Homo sapiens: one gene and its partners. The protein of the gene in region 1 purifies or fractionates together with the protein of each later gene. This does not show direct contact. Each region holds a gene or a part of one and is shown in the gene's direction. Other genes may lie near its edges.

Region 1 (5,058 bases):
GAGGTTTAAATGAGGTACTACGTGTAAGGTACTTAGGTCAGTGCCAGGCTGATATGAAACACTGAGTAAACACTAATGATTGACTATATTCTATTTGTTTTTCCTACTACTTTGTGCCAGGCATTGTTTATTTGTAATTTTTGTGGAACTGCAAGGTGAATGTTAGCTTCCCTGTGGAACATATGAGTGTAATGAGGCACAGAGCAGTTATGTAAGCCTGTCCAGCACCACACAGCTGATAAATGACTGAGCTGGAGTTGGAATCAAGATTAGTCTGACTCGTAAGCCCATGGTCTTTCCGCTGCCTTCCTAATGATAGTGTTGGGTGGGGAAAAGATTACATGGCCATTTGGCCTTGGACAAATTACTTAACATCTCCCAGGCTCAATTTCCTTATCTATGAAATGGAAAAAATGATGTACCTATATCACGGGGTTTTGGTGAAATTAAATGAGAAGCTGCTTAAAGCACTTAGCCCAGTGTCTAGCGTAGTTGGTATTGGCTAGGTGCTTATAAATTTCTGTGGAGGGAGAGAATCATCTCCATTAGGAGAAGAAGGAAGTCTTTGACTTGGATCTGGAGGTGTTCTGAGCAGAGGTCACAGAGCCAGCAAAGGCATGCAAGTGGAGACATGGCCTGTCCCCTGTCTCTGAAGTAGTAACATGTAGCTCCAGCTGGTAGGAACAAAAGGTGCCCCTGGACAGGAGGCTGGGAGTCATGTGGCGCCAGGTGTGTGGAGACAGCTGCAGACATCCAGGCAAGAGTCAGAGATGGCGGAGTTTCTGTCCAGGAAGATGTTGCTCTCCTCCTCCTGTTAGGCCTTCCTCGTCAGGATGACAATGAATGGCTTGTCCATGGCGTTTCAGAGCCACAGAGCACCTGGAGGTTCCCCAGCCTGGAGCCTGGCTGGTTCCTGCCTTTTGTACCAGTGTCTGTGTGGGTGCGTCTGGGGGCAGCTGGCAGCATGGGAGATGACTGTGGCTGGTGCTTATGGGGCTGGGCCCATTTCCTGGGGCCCTCTGAGGGGGATGGCCCAGAACGTGCAGAAGAAGAGCCTGTGGGAGGAAATACCAGGGTGACCACAGCTGGATGAGCAGGAATGGGCAGGAGGGTGAATTGGGCAGGCAGGAAGAGCAGGAGCTGTGAGCTCCTGTGGTGCCATTTTTCCCACACCTCGATCTTCCCCTGTGAGCTGCAAAAGGCCACAGCTGAGCTAGAATGGATGGTTCTGCCCTGTGGAGTTAGCTAAGGGCTTTCACTGCCGGATCCTGGTGCCCACTCTGAGGAGGACGCAGGGGAAAGACATTCAAATTCATACTGAGAGAAAATCTGCTGTGTGCCAGACACTTCCACATCCAGGATATCTCATTTAATCTTTATAACACTCTCGTGCAGCAGGGGAATATGATCTTATTTAAAGGAAGATCGAACTGAGGCTTAGAGACGTACAACAACTTGCCCAAGGTCACATTAAGTGGCAGAACCAGAAATTAGGACTCAGCCAATTTTGCTCGAAGTCTGATGTCTGTTTCCCTGTCCTATGGGCTAGCTCTCTCAAATCTTACTTTCCTGTTGACTGCAAAGAGGTGCATGGTAAGGGCAGCAGAAAGGGCTGTTTAAAATGAGCTTTGATGGGAAGAGGCTGCTTGGAAAAGGAAATGAGGGCTCCTGGGGAGAACCTGGAGTCTCAGCCCATGATCCCTACTCCGGCCCCCCAGAAGGGGCATGTGAGCCTGTGGAGGTCCCATCCCCCACCCCTCGTGACAGCAGCTTCTCCCCCAGCTGCTTTTTGGGCTTCCTCTTCCACCCTGCTGTTTCCTCTCTCCCTCCCTACAGTGGACTGGCGTGCACCTCATTGACCTCGGGTGGGGCTGTCTGACTCAGGCCCTGTGGGCTGGTCTAGAAGGTAGCAGCAAGGTTTCGAAATAGTCTGTATGGTTGGCCAAGGCCTTGTTTTTTCCATTCAAGCTTCTGTATCAACTGAGAGCTGGGGTCAGGGTTGACAGTCCCAAAGTAACAGCAGAATTGAGGACAGACACCAGAGGTAGAGTCCCTGAAGCCCAGGACCTCCTATCTGAGTCACTAACAGACACTAAGTTGGTGTGTGTGTGGGGTGGGGGGGCGGTGTCACTGCTCTCCTGTTGGCTTCTGGCTCAGGTCTTGTCCCCTGGACGCTTCTTGCTCAGGAGAAGGAAGGCCATCCTCCTCCCCCTCTAAGCAGGACTGCAGCTCTGCCATCATCAACACGCTTCCATCAGTGCTATTTACACAACCTTTCTTCAGAAGAGACACCAACTTAAAACCTGTTGGCTGCCTCTTCTGAGCCCCACCAACACTCCCACCCTCCCTGTTATTCCGGCTGCTGATCAGAGTCCCTGCTGCAGCATGAAGGCTGTCTTCATTCTGCCTGACCATTCAGGGTCCCCCACTCAGCTTTCTTCCCAAAGCAAAACAATCTATCCTGTATTTTCCTCTTTCCTAAGACAGACTGTCATCTGAGCCACCAGTCTCTTCTCAAATGTCCTGAGTTCCTCGTGGCTCCTGGCCAATGGCTTCTTTCTCTAGGAAGGCTCTCAGGGCAAGCCCCGAGTCATCTCGATCTCTCTGAGCATGTGCCCACGTCCCAGCTGGAGGAAGGACAGCAAACAGAGGATTCCCTGAGGGGCTGGCTGCTGCCCTGGGAGAGCTTTGCGCCTCCCAAAGAGGGTCTTGTCCTGTCTTGTGTGCTAAAGACCTGGCTCAGGGCTCTGCACCTGTGGTATCTGTTCCTGGCTGGCCTTTTCCTAGCAGGGTATCTCCCAGTGCTGGTGGAGGGCTTGTGGGGGAGGGGGGGTGGGCACTGTCACCATTGACCCTAGCTTGGTTCTTACTGTGCCCAGCCCTCTATCCTTTTCAGATCTGCTTAGTCTCAGAACAGTCACGTCCGAGAAGAGACTACTGAATCCATTTTCTCTGGACAAGTGCCAAAGTCACCTGCAGCCACAGCCAGCCTAGCCTGGGACTGGGGAGTGACTAGGGAGCCACTGGGGAACCGGGGCTGTTTCTGACATCTCTCGGGGGCAGCGTCCCTCTGCTGGGCTGTTTCTTGTTTTTTGCTGTTGCAGTGGTGGTGGCAGTCGGTCTTTTGGGGGTTTTGTTTGTTTGTTTCTAATCTGTCACTGCTTTGGGACATGCCATTTCTTGATTTTTACCCCAGAAGCATTCCTAGTGCAAAGTCTCAACAAGGTCAATAAAGTTATTATCAGGCTCCTTCGAAAGAGTAGGTTGGACTGTCAGCTAATAGTTAAGAGATAGCTAGTCAACCTCCCTATCTAACTTGGTTATTCAGTAACCAGTATCCGGTGGGGGGGAGGTGGGATTCTGAGAAGTGCCATCTCTTGCTAACAAGGTCTTTGAGGGTCATGGGACAGCCGCCCCATCTGGAGCAGCCGGGGGCCTTCCCCTCCATCCTTTGGTCCTTGGCCTACTTGCCCAGCCTGGCCCAGCCCCTGGGCTGCCATCCCCCCGTCACAGCCACCCTGGGGCCAGCTAGGCAAGGCCTGGCTGTGCATATTCTGTGCCCTGCTTCTCTTCTGGGACCTCTTGATTCACGAGGGAAGGACTGGTGAGAGGAGAAGTGAAACCTGCGGGTTCTAAACATGGAAGGAGTGCGTCAGCTGCCTTTCTGAAGCTAGCATGAGCTTGGCAGTCTTGGCCTCCGTCTAGCCTAGCCCTTAACCTGACCGAAGTTCCCAGTCTCCTGTGAACCACGGCACCTTGATCTTTCTCTTAGAACACCTGACAATGGGGAATGGATAGAGCACCAGACTCAGAGGAGGCCCAGCTCTGACTATGCCATGCCCAGCGAGTGGTGTGACTTTGAGCTCATCCCTCCATCCCTCTGGAGGCCAGGAAGGAAGTCCCAGAAAAGGCCAGTGCCAGGCCTAGTGTCACACAACACAGCTGAGGACCCCCCACCCGCCACCCTCAAGACTCATGACTCTCCTGCTATCTTGGGTGTCAGGGTTTCTACTGGCAGCATCATGGGGGACTCCAGGTGGTGGATTTCAGGGAGTTGGGGTCAGAGCTGGCGGGGACATCAGGCTACCACCTGGAGGAGGGCAGGGCTGGAATCTTGGAACCTACCAGGTCAGGATGCACGTGGGGACCCCTACTGACTTTCCTGTCTGCCCACGGGAGCAGGTGGGAGGGCCCCGGGGCTGGAGTCTCCCCTGTGTCCCACCGTAGGCTCCCCAAGAAGCCATAGGGCCCACCATGGAAGGCCAGAGCTCCAGGAGCTTCAGGGCATCCTTATGTTCATCTAGACCCAGCTATGCACAGCGGGAGGCGGGGTGGAGGGGGACAGGCTGGCAGCCACATCTCTACCTTCCAGGTAAATCCAGGGCCCGGAGCCTCCACTTCCCAGAAGAGTTTGGTTCAGCCCCTGACCCTACTCGGCTCCCCTAACAGAGCAGTGTGGGCCGCCTCCACCCCTCCAGTCCTTCTTCCTGGTCTGAACATTGGAAGCACACTGGCTGTCATCTAAGCGCCCTCTGGGCATCAGGAACAATTTCAGACTGGTTAGGTGCATCTCACTAACCCATCAATAGGTCTGAGAAAGGTGATAGACTCTGCTTTTCCAATGAGCAAAAAGATGTAAGGAATGAAACCAGCTTTTGCCCGATTCCCAAGTCCTTGCTGTTTTCTCTTATAGACATCAACTCCCTGACATCCACCACCTGGGTTCCCCCGTGATGCTGCTATGTCCCTGGGAGTGGCTGGCAGGATGAAAAAGGCCCAGGGAACTGGCCTTGAGCCTCAGTGAGGAAGCCTGTCTGCGCTTCCCACCAAAACCTACAGGGCACAGCCCTGGGTCTTCACCTGGCTTAGGCTGGCTGGGGTTCAGAGCTGCCGACCTGGGAACTCCCGCTCTCTTCAGTGGCTTCCCATCACCTTCAGAGATAGCCTAAATGCCACAGTTTGGCACCTGAGGCCCTGCGCCACGCCACCTGAGGCCCCTGCCCTTCCCAGCCAGCTCTGCTTCTCTGCTTGGCTCAGTTTCACCCTACAGATACCCCC
Region 2 (5,058 bases), on another chromosome or scaffold:
CTCTGGGGCCAGTGAACAGTTTTGGCATATGTGGGCGCTAGTCTCTGTTGGAGAGAGGAAGTTATGATAGTAGATAAGATTAGAAGGATGGACAAGAGTCATCAAGAGAGACTTGGATCAAATTTGAATTTTGTCCTGTAGGCACAAGGAACCATTAAAGAATTTTAAACTTGAGAGTAACATGATCATAACTATACTTTTAAAATTAGGGAAAAATAGATCAAGCCACCAAAATGTAAATGGAAACAACATTTATTTTTGTTTCTGTTCCACCTCTTATTGTTAACCTCATCCCCATAGTGGTTCTTCCTACTTTATTCTCAAATACATGCAAAAAAAAAGACAAAGGATTTTTTTTAAGAGGCAGAAAGAGAAGTGAACAGGAAAAAAATTATTTTTTCTACACTAACCTCGTTTTCTTTTTCTTTTCTTTTTTTTTTGAAAACGGTCTCACTCTCTCACCCAGGCTGGAGTGCAGTGGCGTGATCACAGCTCACTGCAGCCTCGACTTCCTGGGTTCAAGCAATCCTCCCACCTCAGCCTCCTGAGTAGCTGGGATTATAGGCACATGCCACCACGCCCAGCTAATTTTTGTATTTTTTTTGTAGAGATGGGGTTTTGCCATGTTGCCCAGGCTGGTCTCGAACTCCTGGCCTCAAGTGATCTATCCGGCTCGGCCTCCCAAAGTGCTGGTATTACAGGCGTGAGTCACTGCGCCTGGCAACTTCTTTTATTTTCTAGTAGAAAAACATAAATTCGTTTTGTAAGAACACTATGTAGATTGTTATTGGCACATGTTCTTATAAGTTTTTATTTTTCTTTCAGTACACAGTATTCTCAAGAAATGATGTTAGGGTCACTTCTCTAGTGTTAACATGCTGTTAAATTGAGGTAATAAACATTTAACTCATTAAATCAGGAACTTAGGTAGTTTATTACACAACCTGAAGGAAACTAGTTAGTATTTTACCTCATGTAAAAGTTTTTAGGGAAGATTGCATTTGTTCCCTCAGTAACATAGTTACTAACTGTGCCAGGCACAGTCTTTATCCTTTTAGAGCTTATATTCTAGGAGGGAAGAAAAATTTTAAATAAGTAATTATAGTTATTTGATCAGAATTCCGGTAGAGAAGAATAAAGTATTATAAGAGCATGTATCAGGGGACTTGGCTAGTTCTAGGAACCAGGGAAGTCTTTTCAGAGGGAGAGATGTGTAAGCCAAGACCTAATGTGGGCATTATCTAGATGAACAGCTGATAGACCTAAGTTGGGAAGGAGCATGGCATCTTGGAATAATTTTTTTTTTAAGGCAAGTATAGCTGGTATACACAGCCATATGACTGGAGAGGTAGGCAGATGTAAGACCATACAGGGCATTACAGACTATGGTAAAGATTTTAGGTGTACTGAGAGCATAGTGGGTAGCAAATCAAATTTGTTTTAAAATGAGTCCTCTGGCTATAATGTGGAGAAACAGATTGGGGGGCGGGGGCAAGAGAAGAGATGGGCAACTAGTTGAAAGCTATGCTGTAGTCCTGGTGAGAGAGGAGGTTGACATGGTCTTAGCCTGTGGTAGAAGAGATGGAGGGACAGATATAGGAGGAAAATTAACAGCGTGCAGAAGGATATGGGAAGAACATATCATGGGACTCAGGTTTTTGATTTGTGCAACTATTGGGAGAGTGAGAGTGGTTACATCCATGAGATTAGGACCATGTTTGTCGGGGTGGGGGGAATCGTGAATCCGTTTTGGCTGTATGGGGTTTGAGATACATGTGTTGACACTCAAATGGAAATATTGGGTAGGCATTTGGATACCTGGAAGTGGAACTTAAGTCTAAGTATGCCCAGGTCTAGGTTTTATGTTTTAGAATAAAGACATTTTTAACTCTTTTGTATACAAAACACTCAGGAAGAATTGAAAGTGTTGAATCAAGAGGATGTAAGTTCCAGTGATGTTTGAATATCTACCATTCAAGTTCTGTTTTATGAGAAATCTTGACACTGAGTAATTAACAAATAGATGTGCTGATAGATGTTGTCTCCACAAAGTGACACTTCTTTTATCACAACTTGATCTCAAGAACTGAGGTTATTTCCTGATTTTTGACAAAAATGTTTTGCTCTGGTTTTGTTGCTCTAGATTGATCGTACTAAAAAACCAGCAGTCAAATTGCCTGAAGAGCATAGAATAAAATCTGAAAGTACAAACCATGAGCAACAATCTCCTCAGAGTGGAAAAGTTATTCCTGATCGTTCCACCAAGCCAGTAGTTTTTTCTCCAACTCTCATGTTAACAGATGAAGAAAAGGCTCGTATTCATGCAGAAACTGCTCTTCTAATGGAAAAAAACAAACAAGAAAAAGAACTTCGGGAAAGGCAGCAAGAGGAACAGAAAGAGAAACTGAGGAAGGAAGAACAAGAACAAAAAGCCAAAAAGAAACAAGAAGCTGAAGAAAATGAAATTACAGAGAAGCAACAAAAAGCAAAAGAAGAAATGGAGAAGAAAGAAAGTGAACAGGCCAAGAAAGAAGATAAAGAAACCTCAGCAAAGAGGGGCAAAGAAATAACAGGAGTAAAAAGACAAAGTAAAAGTGAACATGAAACTTCTGATGCCAAGAAATCTGTAGAAGATAGGGGGAAAAGGTGTCCAACCCCAGAAATACAGAAAAAGTCAACAGGAGATGTGCCCCATACATCTGTGACAGGGGATTCAGGTTCAGGCAAGGTAAGCAGAAACAGTACAAATTGCCAACGAAGTGAAAGAAAATGTATATGAAAATGTGAAAACACCAGTGGCATTCCATAAAAGGGCAGGCATTTCAAATAGTCTTTTCAGGGGTGATAGAATGTACTGATCTATCCACATTTGCTCATCTATTCTCCTTTGAGGCCAGTGCCATACATTTATGAAATGATTGGTTGGGAATGAAATTGCTTTTTGTATATTACATCTATAAAATGCAATATATTTCAAATAATTGAGATAAATAGCTACATTCTTCATTTTTATGTTTGATGTATGATCATGGGAAGACTAGAGTGAAATATAATCTCCTTCTCAGTATGGGGAAACTAGATGCTAATATTTGTATGATAGAATTTATATCTGTTTAGAATATATCCAAAATCAGTGACATCTAAATGGCCTAACATTTATCTTTGCATATAGTGATTTTTTGGTCAGATCGGTGTCATTTTGTTTCTTGCTTTATCTATTTAAATAATATTGGCAAATAACCCAATTAATTTTGCCCTTGGCTACACACCCAAAATTGATAGCCGTAATTTTAGGGGACTTTTTTTGTTATTCTTTTTCAATCTCTAATAATGCTATGCTTTTCTTTTTTTCTTCATTATGTCATTAACAATGCCTTTTCCTTTTGAACACCAAGTATATGTTTATAATACCAAGAACAGTTATGGTCCTTTTTACATATGTATAAATGGAAAAAACATTTTTAGTAGTGTGGAAATGACTTCTAATGGAAGGCGGGATACCATCTTTACAGAATGTCAATTTCTATACTTCTCAAACACAATTCAGGCATGTTACCAAAATTAATTCATAGTCAAGCTGCTCTTATCCAGGGAACACTTATCTGGTAACCTCTGCTATTAAAAAAGATAGCTTCCATCCAAAAACCTTCTAAACACCCCAAATTGGGGATATGAAGCCCATGTACTAAAACTCTCTAATTTTATTCACAGGAGGAGCAAAACATGTGCACTCCAAGATACAATTTAAGTATTATTCATTGAGTAGCTACTATATGCCAAGTATTTTCACTGCATTGTCTTATTTACCCCTAATGATAACCCCATAAGGTATTTAATTTACAAGTGAAACTGAAGTTTAGAGGTTAAGTATTTGCCTAGGATCACATAGACAGTGAGATTCCAAAGCCACTTCTTTTCCATCTTGCTATACTAGAGGCATGCAGTCTTTAGAACTTAAATCATTCATATTTGTGGAGTCATTTAGTATATAGGTGCCAAATATTCCTACACATCTAAGATTGCATTCTTTGTGTGCTCCTTTTAAAAGTAGGAGAAATATGTAATTTATTCTAGAATAAATTTTGTTAAAATTATCACTAATTTTAAAAAGTTTTTAGTAGAGTTATTTTAAAATAAGATATAAAACAAAAATGAGTTTTTAAAAAGAATCTACGGGCCGGGCGCGTTGGCCCACGCCTATAATCCCAGCACTTTGGGAGGCCTAGACGAGCGGATCACTTGGTCAGGAGATCAAGATGATCCTGGCTAACACGGTAAAACCCTGTCTCCACTAAAAATATAAAAAATTAGCCAGGTGTGGTGGCGGGCGCCTGTAGTCCCAGCTGCTTGGGAGGCTGAAGCAGGAGAATCACTTGAACCCATGAGGCAGAGGTTGCAGTGAGCCAAGATCGTGCCACTGCACTCCAGCCTGGGTGACAGAGCGAGACTCGGTCTCCAAAAAAAAAAAAAGAATCTGTGATGTTATAAGAAGATATGAATATAGATTTTTGCATTTTTTACTATTGGTCTGTATCTTAATTTCTTCTTTCTCTTGAATACTTCAAATTTTTTGAAGCACAACTCCTTTCAAGATAACCAAAATCGTAATAGTATTTAAATAAAAGAATAATGTTCAAATTAGGTCATGGTGAATATACATTAATGATCAGCATTTTATACTTGGCCATGTAGTGTGAACCAGTGCTTCACAGTCCACTTTGATTTTCATCTTTTTTTTTTCTTCACTGATTCATCAGAGTTCTTTAGTTTTTTAAGTATTTTGAATGTGACAGTAAAATATAATAAAATTTTCAGAGGCCTTTTTTTTCTCCTTTTACATTTTCATTCTCATAGATTCGGTTGTGTTAGCTAGTAGCTTTATGTTGGGAGGAGAATTAAAGTTTTCTTTCACTTCTGTAATTTTAATAATTTTACAGCCATTTAAGATTAAAGGACAACCAGAAAGTGGAATTCTAAGGACAGGAACTTTTAGAGAGGATACAGACGATACCGAAAGAAATAAAGTAAGTAGTTTATTGCAGGAAAAAACTGGAAAAA
Region 3 (5,058 bases), on another chromosome or scaffold:
GACTCCGTCTAAAAAAAAAAAAAAAAAAAAAGCTGGGCAAGGTGGCATGCACCTGTAATCCCAGCTACTCGGGAGGCTGAGGCAGGAGAATCACTTGAACCCCGGAGGCAGAGGTTGCAGTGAGCCGAAATCACGCCATTGCACTCTAGCCTGGGCGACAAGAGCAAGACTCCATCTTAAAAATCAATAAATAAAATATTTCAACTTTTACATTTCATATAAGCTCCTAAACTACTCACTGTTGCTGATGGACAGTGACATTAATTTTTGTGTTATCATATAGGGGTCAAATTTGAGTGTCTCCACGGACTAACCTTGCTAAACAATTATATTTTTATTGAATTGCAGATTCTTTTTGGTTTTCTTTTGTTCTGTCTGATCCTTCCCCTTTGGTGTGGCTAGGACCTCTGGATTTGAGAACAGTACTGGCGTACCTCCTTTTCTTGTTTCCAATTTCTCAGTTAGCTACTTGGCTCATAAATTTTCAATCTTTTCTAATTTTATAGCATATATAGCATTTAATGCTATATATATTTTACCAGGTCTCACTTTTGTTCACCTAAGTTTTTTTTTGTTTTTGTTTTTGTTTTGAGATGGAGTTTTGCTCTTGTCACCCAGGCTGGAGTGCAACTGTGCAATCTCAGCTCACTACAACCTCTGCCTCCTGGGTTCAAGCAATTCTTCTGCCTCAGCCTCCTGAGTAGCTGGGATTACAGGTGCACGCCACCACGCCTGGCTAATTTTTGTATTTTTAGTAGAGACGGGGTTTTACCATGTTGGCCAGGCTGGTCTCAAACTCCTAACCTCAGGTGATCCACCCACCTCGGCCTCTCAAAGTGCTGGGATTACAGGTGTGAGCCATCACACCTGGCAGTTTACCCAAGTTTTGACTGATATTTTTTATTATTCTGTTTGGGGTGTTTTAACATTTCCCTTCTGATTTCTGTAGAGATGGGGTCTTGCTATGCTTTGACCTATGGATTATTAAATATTTTTAAATTTTTCAAACATAGATCTTTAAAAAATACATATTTATTTCTAGCTCAATTGCACAGATGGTCTATTTGAAATAATTTCTTTAAAATTTGGTAAGATTTGCCCTATGGCCTGGAATGTGATCACATTTTGTGACTATTCCTTGTTTTCTTGAAGGACATATTCTGTTTTTGTTGTTTTGCCTTTTTTCACATGTTCTAATTGAAGGACATATTCCCTGGCTCTATGAGTTTAATAAATTCAAATCTCCATCTTGCCTAACCTTTTGTCTGTGACTTATCAGTCAGCAGAAGTTAATCTCCCTCTGGGACAAGAGAGCTCTCAATTTCCCTATCAATTCTGTCAGTGTTTTCTTTATATATTTTGCAGCCTATTCACAATTCACAGATTAGTTCTATTCACAGATTTAGAACTGTTACATTTTCCTGGTGAATCAGCCATTTTATCATGATGTATGGAACCCTTCTGTCTTCTAATACTACTTTTTTTTTTTTTGAGACAGAGTTTTGCTCTCGTTGGCCAGGCTGGAGTGCAGTGGCGCAATCTCGGCTCACTGCAACCTCCACCTCCTGGGTTCAAGCGATTCTCCTGCCTCAGCCTCCCAAGTAGCTGGTATTACCCGCCACCATGCCCAGCTATTTTTTGGATTTTTAGTAGAGCCAGGGTTTCACCATGTTGGCCAGGCTCGTCTCGAACTCCTGACTTTGTGATCTGCCCGTCTTGGCCTCCCAAAGTGCTGAGATTACAGGTGTGAGCCACCGCGCCTGGCCTATTCTAATACTACTTCTTAGTCTAGTTTGGCTGGTAGTAGTATAGCCTTTCTAGCTTGCTTTCTTTTGATTAGTATTTGCTGTATCTTTTTAACATCCCTTTACTTTCAGTCTTCCAGTGACTTTATGTCAAGGTATGTCATCCTTTAAAAAACATGTAGCTGGATATTTTCAATGTAGTCTGACAGTCTTTGTCATTTAACTTTAAAGTTTAGTCTACTTACATTTATTGTGATTACTGACATATTTGACTTTGTTTCTACCATCTTACTTTTTTGCTTTCTATTTGTTCCTTTTCTGTTGTTGCAGTTGACATTGGCTGTCAGCCTAATTGTTGTTCCTTTGTAGGTGATCTGTCTTAACTCCCTGGCTGCTTTGTAATTTTTTTGTTTTTGGTGTTCTGCAGTTTCACTCCATTATGTCTAGGTATGGATTTCTTTTTATTTACATGGTTTGATATACTTTGTGTCTGTCTTTCATTCTGCAAACTTCTCAACCATTCTCTTCCAGTAATTCCTTTTATTCTTCATTCCTTCTCTTCCCTCCCTCTGGGGCTCTGATTTGATTTGCGTTGGGCTCTCTGTTCTGTCTTCCTTATCTCTTAGCCTCTCTTCATATTTCTCACCTACTTGTTTTTCTGAGTTGGAATCTGAGTGATTTCTTCAGATCTGTCTTCCAGTTCATCACTTCCTCCTTTGGCTGTTCCTAATGTGCTGTTTAACAACCTATTATTTCAATACTTACAGTTTTCCTTTGGAAGAGTTTAATTTGGTTCCTTTGCAACTCTACCCAGTCATCTGAAGGAATTCTCATGTCACTTGTTCTGTGATTACAGCTTTCATTTCCTTAGTCATTTGACACATAATTGACAGCACCAATTTCTGAAGTCTTTGAGGCCTAAACTTGACTGTTGTTTTTCTGTTAACTCTCCTTTATGGTGATTTGTTTCCTTATGCATTTGGTGATTTTGCCTGTGAGCTCATATGAATTTGCTCCTTTTTTTTTTTTTTTTTGACAAGGTCTTGCTCTGTGCTGGAGTGCAGTGGCATGATCTCAGCTCACTGCAACTTCCACATCCTGGGCTCAACCCATCCTTCCCACCTCAGCCTTCACAGTAGCTGGGACTATAGGCGTGCACCACCACCCCTGGTTTTGTATTTTTTGTAGAGATGGGGGTTTTGCCATGTTGCCCAGGCTGGTCTCAAACTTGTGAGCTCAAACGATCCACCCGCCTTGGCCTCCCAAAGTGCTGAGACTTACAGGTGCAAGCCACTGCACCCAGCCCTGCTCTTAATTTTTGAAAAATCTTGGGTCCTGAATTGAGGATTCCTTCCTCCAGGAGGACTTTGGTTTTCTCCTGCAGGAGTCCTTCATCCCCCTCTAGATTCCTTCTATAACCTAGGGAGCTCAGGCTCAACAGATACCCCTGAATGTTCCCAGCCCAATCAGGAGTGTCTGCCTGGTGCATTCTGTTTCGTTTTCTTTGAGACTGAGTTTCACTCTTGTCCCCAAGGCTGGAGTGCAATGGTGCGGTCTCAGCTCACTGCAACCTCCGCTCCCCATGTTCAAGCGATTCTCCTGCCTCAGCCTCTCAAGTAGCTGGGATTACAGGCACCTGCCACCACACCTGGCTAATTTTTGTATTTTTAGTAGAGACGGGGGTTTCACTGCATTGGCCAGGCTGGTCTGAAACTCCTGATCTCAGATGATCCGCCTGCCTCAGCCTCCCAAAGTGCTGGGATTACAGGCGTGAACCACCACTCCAATCTTGTTTCTTGTAAAAAGTACTGTGTAACTAGAGCACAAAATTGTCCTTGTGCCTGGCTCAGGGCCTGGCAGACCCTTGTTCATTCCTACTTGGGAAGCAAACGGATGCCTGAGGGATGGGGGGTTAGGGAACAGAGTGGCCTTAGAGACCCTAGGAATTCACTCTACTCGGTCCTCTTCTTATCGTCCCCAGGTCTGGCCAGCATGACCCAGAACTTAGAGCCACTTCTGAAGAAGCAGGGCTGGGACTGGGCGTGAGTCCTGGGAATGGGGGAGGGAGGCAAGGGCAGGCTGGGACCCTCCCAGGGTCCCCCAGGCAGGCTCGTGACCTGGTGTTCTCCTAGGCTTCCTGTGGCCAAGCTGGCTATCCGCGTGGGACTGGCAGTGGTGGGCTCTGTGCTGGGTGCCTTCCTCACCTTCCCAGGCCTGCGGCTGGCCCAGACCCACCGGGACGCACTGACCATGTCGGAGGACAGACCCATGCTGCAGTTAAGTGGGTCGCTTGGTGGGTGGGGGGACTAGGGAGCTTAAGGGAGAGACTCGAGGAGAGGGGGTACCCAGGCCTCACTCCCTCCTGCCCTCACCCCCCAGGTTCCTCCTGCACACCAGCTTCCTGTCTCCCCTGTTCATCCTGTGGCTCTGGACAAAGCCCATTGCACGGGACTTCCTGCACCAGCCGCCGTTTGGGGAGACGCGTTTCTCCCTGTGCGTATTGGGTGGGGCTAGGAGGTAGCTGGGGCTCCCCTGGGTGCCCTAGCCTCTGAGATTCAGGGAGGAGCCTGGGGAAGATCCTGGGGGGTCGGGGGCGACCTTCTTAGTCCCTTGCCCCCGGCCCTCTCCGCACAGGCTGTCCGATTCTGCCTTCGACTCTGGGCGCCTCTGGTTGCTGGTGGTGCTGTGCCTGCTGCGGCTGGCGGTGACCCGGCCCCACCTGCAGGCCTACCTGTGCCTGGCCAAGGCCCGGGTGGAGCAGCTGCGAAGGGAGGCTGGCCGCATCGAAGCCCGTGAAATCCAGCAGAGGGTATGGACGCCCCGATGACCTAGGCCAGAGGGAACCTGGGGCTCAGGGTGGGGTTCCTGGTCCTTTGGGCGTGGAGTCGTCCCAAACCAGAAGGCCTCCTGCTGCAGCCACCCCTGCTACCTGCCCACAGGTGGTCCGAGTCTACTGCTATGTGACCGTGGTGAGCTTGCAGTACCTGACGCCGCTCATCCTCACCCTCAACTGCACACTTCTGCTCAAGACGCTGGGTGAGATGCCGCGGTGTGGGGGTGGAGGAGGGGCGGAGTTGGAAGATAAAACAGAGTGGAGGTGGACTCTGGCGGGGACCGCGGTGGGGGGGGAGAGGCGGGGCCTAGGCAGGGGGCGGAGACTGTGGTAAGGCAGGGTCTGAGCAGGAAGCGGAGCCTGGAGTGGGGCTTGCCTTGGACAGGAAGTGGAGCCTGGGGATGGGTGCAATCTGAGCAGGAGGCGGGGCCTGGGTAGGGGGCGGGGACTGTGGTGAGGCAGGGTCTGAGCAGGAGGTGG
Region 4 (4,436 bases), on another chromosome or scaffold:
ATTTCCCTTTCTTAACAGAGCTGAATTAAATTTAACTCTGCTTTTGTAAATTTGTCACTGAGATCATCAATGACAGTTTCCAGAAGGTTAATTTGTTATAAATGCTCATATGATGTGAAGCTTGAGCACATACTTTTGGAAACTTGACAAAAAGCATAATGTTCTCATTTTATATGTATTGACTAATTCTATAGGAAATTTAATTTTGACATAACAATGGAAATTAGCTTCTGAGTGAGTAAGAGCCTTAAGAGGCCAGAATCCTTGCCTATTCTTAATATTTTTTTTTTTTTGGAGATTCTAATAACGTATAGGTTATAAGATTGTAAAACCCTGGCTGTGTGTGTTAGGTCTAGTAATACATCTCAATAATCGGGAAAGATACATTAGGTAGAGATCACTGAAAATAGAGAGCCTGGAAAAGTATTTAATCACAATGGTCTGTATGAAAGCAGGAGAGTCATGTTTTCTAGATTGCTTTATACTTAAGCTTCCAATATCCTATTTTAGACTTAAAATGTGCTATATACGGGTAGTAGTTTCCAACTGTTACATCTCACAGCTCTTAATAGTTTCATGAAAATTATACTTGGACTCAAATGAAAGAATGTAGGCTTTGGCATGAAATTGATCCATAATCATCTCTAGCAGGTATATTCTATAAATTCAACAGTTAAATAATTCAGGGTAAAATCACTTCATGCGTATCACCCCGTAGCCATTCTGAATCAAGAGAAACCATATTTCCCTTGGAGGTTTTCCCTACAACATTGATCTTGAAGGCTCCATATTAAAGTTTGATTTGATTGCTTTCCATATGTTGAATATTAATAAGGATTATATATTTTTCTCAAGCAGTTTTATTACCACTATATTTAATTTTGTTGAGAGTATATAATTACTTCTTCAAGGTATGTTAGAAAATGCCATATTCCTAAAATTCTGAATTCCTTCATCCCACACCTGCCTATCATTATTGTCATTTGCTGTCACCACCCACTTCAGGATGGTCTCTTGCTTCTTGTTCTCTTCCTATTCTCTGCATGGGAACTGAGGCAGAGGCTGACTACCTGAGGTTCTTCATGTTCCTCAGCCACCTTCTACCACCTCACCCTTTCCTTGGATCTAGTTAATCTTTTAGATTATTTGCCTGTGTTGCCAGAGACTTCTGTTGATGGGAAAGGAGAAAAGCCAGCATGGTCGGAGGGTCAGAACTATATGGAGGGGAAACTGGGTGAATTCTGAGCCCACTCTGGCCTGAGTTAAAATCTTCTAAAGGCAGATCAGTATCTTGTTTGAGCCCAAAAGAGTCCTTTGATAATTTACCATGTTATTATGCTTATTGTACACATTTCCTCTTTCTCTCAGCAAACCTAGAGTACTATACATACATTATTGATTTATCTTTATCATGTTCAAATGAAAGGCCTGGTGAGTGAATTGCCTTAACAGACTTTACAAAATGAAAAATTATTAATGTGATATATTAGTGAAGTGCAGAAGCTTCACTTAAAAAGTAGAGCTGTTAGCTTTCCTAAAGAGATACTAGAAGAAAACCACAGTAGAATTTTATCCTGAGCCATTTCATGATATGACCTGCAGCCTGCACAAGTCAGTAACTATCTTGTCTGAACTGTTTATCTTTCAGGATAGCAGTGGCAGCTCCGAGTTACAAGAAATTATGAGAAGACGACAGGAAAAAATCAGTGCTGCCGCTAGTGATTCAGGAGTGGAATCTTTTGATGAAGGAAGCAGTCACTAATTTGTTTGTTTGTATTTAAACTCCATTGTTTTTGGCATTATTCCAACATGCTTTGTTTTAAGAAGCCTTGAAGGGAATGTCAGATTCATTTTTCTTGATGTAATTTATCACCATAAAAAAAAACCCATGCAAACCTGAGTGAGCACAGGATTTGCTTCTAGGCCCATTATTTTTATTAAAACTGAAAAAATTTAAACTGAATTTTTTGACCTTGGAAAATATTTTTCTTACTTTACCAAGGTGAAGTTTCCTTAATTAGACTAATTATTTTATCCCCATCCCAGGGTATAAACAGGAATTGTTTTGATAGTGGTGGAGTTATTCACTGCAACAAAGCAACAATGTTGTCCATGATTCAAAATCTAAGCAGTTTCGATTTTGCCTGTGAATATGGTGTCTGTCATTCAGGGCATAGCTCACTGTAGGCTAGCCTCTGCTTACTTAAGTCTCTTCTCTGACATACTCAATGGAAGAATATTTAGATTTATTTAAAGTTCTTAATGCCAACAGTTTAAAAAAAAATTAAAACATTTGAATGAACTGTAAAGTACAGCCATACCTTGGACATGCAAATATAAATCTATGGAGCATTCTCAAGAGAGTTTGTCATGGCTCTGTTGATTGCAACTCCTTGTATAGCTTGTATTTTGATTTAGTTTATATTCTGCTTATTATGTATACTGTGTTCTTATATATGAGAAAGCACAAATGCGAAAGAGGTCATGTCTTCTCAAAATCTAGCAAAGGAAGTAGTCTGCATTGGTGTGCATTACAGTATTTTGCTTAATGAAAGCCTCAGTTCTGAATGTTGATATGAGTAGTTAAAAGGAAGTGGGGCCATTTTATGTGTTTATCTGTGTCAAGTATTTCTGGTAATAAGAAGCACTTAATTTACACATATTTTAATCCTGTGAAAGATTCCACATAGAGAAAAGAAAGATACCTAACCTTCAACAAATGTTATTTTTGGAAACACAATTTTTGTCATTAAATGTTATATTATTTCACATATATAAAACAGATGTTATGTAAGAATGTTGTATATTTTAACATAAATCATTTAGAGAAATTATCTAGATTCATTAATTTTCATAGTGCCTTTTTCACATGAGTCAGCTGGAAAGTCTGCAATAAACAGTATTTGCTGTCTGTTAATAAATGGTTTCTGTCTCATTAGCAAAAAGGATCTGTGCTAGATCGGCTGAGGATTCGAGTTGAATGCAATGGGAAAAAGTAGAGATCCACATTTTAAAAAAACTATATATTATTCTATTTCTGAGTGGGTAGAGAAACTCTAGAATACTTTTTTCGGTTGTTTTTCTTCTTTTCGCCTCTTGTTTCATCATCTTTTCCTTCTACCATCTAGTCATATTTGGTAATGGTAATGGAACTAATTTACACTGCGCTTACGATTGCTAAATGCTTCCATATAAATGCTTTCCTGGATATTTACAACAACTCTATATGAATTATTACAGATGAGGAGATTTAGCTTCCTAGAAGCTAATTTTCCCCAGATCCTGAAGGATGTGGGAGTTTCTCATCTTCTATCTCTCGGTCTCTCTATAACACTGCCCTTTGGATAAAGTGGAACAAACATGAGCATGATAAAGGTGAATTAGTTTAGATCTTTTACATTTCATAAGGACTGATACATATGTATAATTTAGCCTTTATTGAAAGGGATAAGATGAAAGAAAATAAGATCCAAAAGTTAAGATAACCTGCGTGTAAAATAGCAGACGGATATGAAAAGAATTGGTGTAATTTACATCTTTATGCTATAAGATGCCAAAGGAATGTATCACAGAGGTAGTAATTGCAGAAAGCAGTCACATCAGCTAAGGATGTGGGGACAAAGAGAAGAGGTTCCTGGAATTTAGAATCTTGAGGGAGCAGCACCACAGAATTTGGATCCAGACATCTGAGGGGTTTGGTCACTGGTATCTGAGGATTTGAGGAAAGACCCCACAAAGCTAACAGGGGGACACAGCCTAATCAGTGTTTTTGCCTCAGGTATTCAGAAAAGATTTCAGGAATTGAACAACAGGTCAGAAAATCCATGGCTCTGGGACTTAGACTTTGGAGAAGAGCATGGCAGGTAGCTGGTGCTTGAATCTCTAAGAGGGCACAATGAGGATGCCTCTGGGAGCCTAGGGAATAGAAAACTGGTAAATTGAGCCAACTACTGCTGCTGGGAATCATTTGCTACTTACTGAGTGAAGAACCACTACTGGGGTTGTGTTGGTAGCAACAGAAAGTAAAACAGGAGGGAGAAGCCCCTTGTTCCCTCTCTAGCCTTCTATCTCCCTGTAGCACATGCTTTCGGCACAGTCTATTGAGCATGCACCTGACAAAGCCCCAAATCTCAAAGATGAGAATTAAGGGATGGATTTGAAACTGAGAGAATAACTCATAACCCATTCCAATCTCTAGTACTTAGCCTCTACACTTGCTCTTCTGTACATATCTGAAATTTCATACAACAATAATTTTTTAAATGTGGGCCAGGAGCAGTGGCTCATGCCTATAATCCCAGTACTTTGGGAGGCCAAGATGGGAGAATTGCTTGAGCCCAGGAGTTCAAGACCAGCCTGGGCAACAAAGTGACACCTCATCTCTACAAAAAAAAGTAGCCAGGTGTGGTGGCATTCACACACAGTCTGTGTTACTT

Evidence for each region. The genes of interacting proteins can lie anywhere in the genome.
Region 2: the proteins of SLC37A2 (region 1) and USP8 purify together in Homo sapiens (affinity purification with mass spectrometry; one large-scale study listed by BioGRID and IntAct). This does not show direct contact.
Region 3: the proteins of SLC37A2 (region 1) and TMEM161A purify together in Homo sapiens (affinity purification with mass spectrometry; one large-scale study listed by BioGRID and IntAct). This does not show direct contact.
Region 4: the proteins of SLC37A2 (region 1) and EPS8 purify together in Homo sapiens (affinity purification with mass spectrometry; one large-scale study listed by BioGRID and IntAct). This does not show direct contact.

What each region holds. Positions count from the first base shown.
Region 1 is NC_000011.10:125,069,028-125,074,085, forward strand, and holds part of SLC37A2 (glucose-6-phosphate exchanger SLC37A2), read left to right. Parts: intron 1-5,058. UniProt on the Homo sapiens protein: Inorganic phosphate and glucose-6-phosphate antiporter. May transport cytoplasmic glucose-6-phosphate into the lumen of the endoplasmic reticulum and translocate inorganic phosphate into the opposite direction. Independent of a lumenal glucose-6-phosphatase.
Region 2 is NC_000015.10:50,479,338-50,484,395, forward strand, and holds part of USP8 (ubiquitin carboxyl-terminal hydrolase 8), read left to right. Parts: intron 1-2,143; coding exon 2,144-2,728; intron 2,729-4,937; coding exon 4,938-5,024; intron 5,025-5,058. UniProt on the Homo sapiens protein: Hydrolase that can remove conjugated ubiquitin from proteins and therefore plays an important regulatory role at the level of protein turnover by preventing degradation. Converts both 'Lys-48' an 'Lys-63'-linked ubiquitin chains.
Region 3 is NC_000019.10:19,120,488-19,125,545, reverse strand, and holds part of TMEM161A (transmembrane protein 161A isoform 1 precursor), read left to right. Parts: intron 1-3,726; coding exon 3,727-3,787; intron 3,788-3,877; coding exon 3,878-4,021; intron 4,022-4,124; coding exon 4,125-4,238; intron 4,239-4,379; coding exon 4,380-4,554; intron 4,555-4,684; coding exon 4,685-4,781; intron 4,782-5,058. UniProt on the Homo sapiens protein: May play a role in protection against oxidative stress. Overexpression leads to reduced levels of oxidant-induced DNA damage and apoptosis.
Region 4 is NC_000012.12:15,618,643-15,623,078, reverse strand, and holds the end of EPS8 (epidermal growth factor receptor kinase substrate 8), read left to right. Parts: intron 1-1,648; coding exon 1,649-1,762; 3' UTR 1,763-2,945; downstream 2,946-4,436. UniProt on the Homo sapiens protein: Signaling adapter that controls various cellular protrusions by regulating actin cytoskeleton dynamics and architecture. Depending on its association with other signal transducers, can regulate different processes.